Linked DNA regions of Homo sapiens: region 2 is linked to region 1. Evidence: fine-mapped expression QTL. A gene starts in region 1. The other region holds a variant in brackets. All regions are shown on one strand. Distances are between the middles of the regions. Region 1 holds the start of C5orf34 (chromosome 5 open reading frame 34). Region 2 overlaps C5orf34-AS1 (C5orf34 antisense RNA 1).

Region 1 (2,500 bases):
AGTGCCGCATTTAACCATGATCTTAGGATGGGCTCCCTGCATGCTCAGAGCCCTCTTTACCCTTGGGAAGTGAGCACACACAGTGATTTTATGGATTTATACACATGCCCATCTGAGGCTTTCTTCCTTTTTCCGGTGGAGTGTATCAGAAAAATCATACTTCATCACTTTTGTCTCTTAACCGGCATGCCCAGGAAGTTGCTTCTCTCTGGGGCCTGCATTCAATTAACATTTTGATGTTAACAGGTGTGGGCCATCAGGAAATGGCCTTTCCCTGGCGCTGCCAAATTTTCATTTTTAGAGAGGCCATGTGATAATTGCTGAACCATCACCCAACATTTCTAGTGGGTGGGTGGCAGGGGAGAGCCCTCTCCTGCCTTGCTCATGCCTAACTACCTGTAACAGATTCAGTTCGCCATTTTATAATGTATGAGCATGATCTGTGGTCCCCCAAAACAATTACAGTAGTGACATCAAAGATCAGTGATCACACAGATCACTCTAACAGATACAAAAATAATGAAAAAGTTTGAAATATTGTGGGAATTACCAAAATATGTCAGAGACACAAAGTGAGCACATGATGTTGGAAAAACATGGCACCCATACACTTGCTCCATCAAGGTTGCCTCAAACCTTCCATTTGTAGTAAACTCAGTATCTGCAAAGCACAATAAAATGCACAATAAAACAAGGTATGCCTCTCTATGCTCTCACAAACCTCTGTATTTTATCTTAGAAACACTCACAACTGTAATAAATGATTGTTTATTCTTTCTTTCCAGTTAATCTCTAGCTCTGATCCTCACCCGCAAAGAACTGGGCCACCTTCCCTGCTTTATCCCCACTATGCCTAAACACACAGTGAGTGTTCCATAAACACTTGTTTAGTGGCAATAAATATAGCAGACACATTTATTTGCCACTTTATAAGGAAAAAAGGTGCAGATACATAGACGACCTATTTTCTGATACCAAATTAGGAAGAGTTCTCCATCTTTGGCCAAGTTTTTTTTTTTCTAAACAGCTTTACTGAAGTATAATCGTTTTTTACCTTATTTAAAAATAAGTACCACTCCACTAAAACGCGCTCTGTGGTTAGTTCTCGGCTGGACCGTTCAAAAGGCTGATCCTTACAGCCTTTATTATTAATACAACCAGGTCGGGACTGCTTTTGCGTGGGTCACCAGAAGTAAAAAATCAAAGAGGAGCCAACCCCATTCCGAACAAGGAAACACCCGTCCCCTTCCTACACCAATTCCTGCTCCGCCCTTCGTAGGGAACGCAGCGAGGGCAGCCTCCGGAGTGGAGGGGCGGGACTTCCGGCCCTTCCTGTTGTGGAGGGGCGGGACTTCCTGTCTTCCCTGTTGCGGAGCTCTGAAGCGGCTCCCTGAGGGCGCTGGTTTTGAACTGGTCTTGTGCGGTTTGCGCTTTCTCTTAGTGGTTACAGTTGGCGCTGTCTCCGCTTTCCTGTTTCGTGGCGGGCATCTTGGCCAAAACACTCTCCCTGCCACCTTATTCCTCTAGGGTTGTGATTTTTTTCTTTCACCAAGAAATATCACTCGCTGGTAATTTGTCAAACTGAAGAAACCCCTGAAGAAGCAGTGGTGGGCAGGCGCCGACGCTGCGGCTTCCAGAGCATTTTGGCAAATCAAAGCCAGGGACCGTTGCTGGGCCTCATTTCCGCAACTTTTCGGCTCCGAACTGCTGTGAGTGGAAGACTTTTGGTGGTTGTTTTGATCAGGCTCCTTCTGTAACTAGAGACTATAGCATTTTGAAAGAAATGAGATTCTCATTCATGTCAAGAACAGACTTGTGGATTTTTGAGTGTTAAACATACCCTGACGTAATGTGCTGGGTGATGAGAACGCAAGCGGGAATGAGACTGTAGAGATGAGAATGGCAGTGTGGGTTGGAGCCGGGTTATGGTTTCCTATGGTATGCCAAGAACCTTAGTCATTACACTGTTTGTTGTGTATGCTTGATTATTTAAAATTAGAAAACCGCCTCAGTAAAGCTATTAAAAAAAAGACCTGACCAAAGATAGACTATTTTTCCCAAATTGGAATCAGAAAATGTCTTCCATCTATGTATCAGCACCCGTTTTTTCCCCTAAAATACCAAGTAGACATACCCGATATATACGTGTGTGTTTATATATATATCTGTAATCTATATTGCCATTTGATAAGTACGTAAACAGGTGATGTAAAGCACTTGGTATGGTGTGACTTGTGGAAAGTTACCTATGTCATCAATACTAGAGATGGATTGGAGAGAGAAGAAATTCCAGACAGTTGCAGGAGTTGGAGAGTCTATGGCCTGAAAAAGAGAAAGAGGTAGAGAGAGTCAGGTTCCAAAGACAGAAAATCAACAGGACTTGTTACAGGGGCATGGAGTGGAAAGTCAAGTTTTAGAATATTGGCTGCTAACAATGAGACACCATTAATTCAAATTGCAAATTCAAGAGGAGCAGTTTACTTATTTTTCATCATTCAAA
Region 2 (2,500 bases), 30 kb after region 1:
CATTTTGTTTGTTTTTACTGTTTGAGATACGGTCTTGCTTTGTCACCCAGGCTGCAATGCAGTGGTGCAATCATAGCTCACTGCAGCCTTGAACTTGTGGGCTCAAGGGATCTTCCCACCTCAGCCTTCTGAGTAGCTGGAACCACAGACATGTACCACCATGCCTGGCTAATTTTTAAAAATTTTTTTTGTAGAGACAGGAATCTCCCTATCTTGCCCAGGCTGGTCTTGAACTCCTGGCTTCAAGCTATCCTCCTGCCTCCGTTTCCCAAAATGCTGGAATTACAGGTGTGAGCCACTGCACCCAGCCTCTTTTTTTTTAATATGCAGAATTGTGCATTTGTTCACTTGCTATTTGGTCCCTTTACTCCAAGTATTTTTCAGTAGAGCTATGAGACAAGAACTACATCTCAAAAACAAAAACGGAGACAAGCAACATTGTAAACTAAAAATCAGGCACTTTGGCAAAGACTGTATCTAAACTGTCTCATGAACCAGATACTTTCTTTTGAACACAGGAAAAGATTTATGCTGCAAAGTGTTTAACAGAAATGAGCTCACCAAAAGTGCTATTTATTATAAGCTTGTCTATTAAGAAAGAACAAAACCAAATATCTATAATGACGTCAAGATTACACCAAACACAACCAGAAATGTTCTAATTTTCTGATTTCTATAAAAGACCTGGCTCTTCAAATAAACGGGAAGCAGTAACAGAGAAAACGAGAAAAATGGGGAGAAGAGTGTAGATCAGGAATGATAATGTCACTAAGTTAAAGGGGCACAATGCCTTTTTTTTTTTTTAGTTCCTCTGACACTGGATTCCTTCACATTTCAATTCTCAAACAAGTACCATTTCCTCAAAAGGGCCTTCCTTACTACCTGACTAAAGTTAGCATCTCCCAAGTCTATTACATCACCCTATTTACTTCCTTTATAGTACTTATTACAATCTGTCTAGCTTGTTTCCTTGTGGCTCACACCCTCCACTAGAACTTGAGCTCCATAGTCATTCTGTAGCACACTGAGAGCACTCTGTTTGTATAAATGAATCAGTAAGCTGGGCACAGTGGCTCACGCCTGTAATCCCAACACTTTGAGAAGCCAAGGAG[G/C]GGGGAACACTTGAGCCCAGGACTTTAACACCAGCCTGGGCAACATAGCGAGATGCCCATCTCTACAAAAAACTTAATTACCTGCACGATGGCATGTGCCTGTGGTCCCAGCTACTCCAGAGGCTGAGGCCGGAGAATCCCTTGAGCCCAGGAGGTCAAGGCTGCAGTGAGCTATGATTGCACCACTGCACTCCAGCCTGGGTGACAGAGGGAGACCCTGTCTCAAAAAAAAAAAAAAAAAAAAAAGGAATAAACATCTACAGGCAGTAGACCGACTACAGAGAAAAGAACTACTATTACATTGTTTGGGTTTGCATGAAGCCATCTATGTTGTTCCTCAATAGCTCCATAAAGCCTAGATTATAAGACTTTGTACCACACTGCCAAAAGGGTAATGCCAAATTATTACTGCATTCAGAAGGAGAAAATTTGTCCTTAACATGGCTAAAAGCACTCAAAATTATAAATACATTTGCTGAAAGATACTTTAAATTCTCATTTAAGGTGTGTGGGAGTTAAAAGGTGTTTAATTTTCCCTGTCAGTTGGGTGTTTTACATTGGCTAAGAACCAAGACTGTGACAAGAAATGAGTTCTATGATTGAGAAACTCTAAGATTCTGGGGGTGGCCTAGGAGTTTACTTTGAGATTGAAATTTATTTTCTATGGTCAACTGTATAATTACGATGATACCACCCCTTGCTTTCCATCTGACACTTGGTTTGAGAAACTGTAGGTAGGAAAGGGAAAGAAGAATGTCCCTCCTTGGGCCTCTTCTTTTGGGCCTGTGCTTCCTAGAGTCAAATGTCAAGCTGGTATTTCCTTGGTGCTAAGAGCAACCACCACTCTGAGGCAGAGACGGGATGGGACCTAGCCAAAGTCCCAGTAAACAAACTGTATCTTGTAAGCGCAATTTAATTAGGGTCAAACTATTCTGTATGGACTTGCTTTTTCGACTTCTGAGGATTTAGTAGTCATGATTAAGTGCTGTCACGCTACTGCGATCTACAAACAGTAGCTCCACAACATCCGCCCGCATCGTGGCAAAGAATTATCAAGAAATCCCCAAGGGGGCGGTGAGGAGCCGCCGGTCGGCCAGGTCGCCCGGTCCCTCAGTCTGGTGAAAAGCTCCGTTGCCCACCCTGAGGGCTTCGCGGAAGGAAGTTGGCCGTATCGCTGCACCTTAGAGATGCGACGGCCGAGGCTCCCAGCTCAAGCTTCTGGTAGTAAGGCCTGTGTGCCTGGCATTCGGGGAGGCCACTTTTCTATCCCCAGCTTCCGGGCCACCACTTGGGTGCGTCGTGGGGATGTCGGCAGCTACGTTTGCGGCACAGCTCCGGCTAAACTGAAAAACGAATCCTCAGGTTTGACAAAACTAAACTAAAAAGAC

The links.
Region 2: its variant is fine-mapped to the expression of C5orf34 in whole blood (INTERVAL, PIP 0.96).

Annotation. Positions count from the first base shown.
Region 1 is chr5:43,514,015-43,516,514 of GRCh38, reverse strand. C5orf34 (chromosome 5 open reading frame 34) reads left to right here and starts at 1,367. Exons shown (of 13, transcript NM_198566.4): 1 at 1,367-1,709. LOC124900190 (a long non-coding RNA gene) reads right to left here. Exons shown (of 3, transcript XR_007058764.1): 2 at 1-2,322. RefSeq lists an enhancer at 1,600-1,759.
Region 2 is chr5:43,484,094-43,486,593 of GRCh38, reverse strand. All of the region lies in intron 1 of C5orf34-AS1 (C5orf34 antisense RNA 1), which reads right to left. It also overlaps a transcript of TMEM267 not described here. Among named protein-coding and RNA genes, the nearest start is that of C5orf34-AS1, 1.4 kb to the right of the region's middle. RefSeq lists enhancers at 2,400-2,500, 1,855-2,500. The variant G/C (reference allele first, on the strand shown) is at 1,113.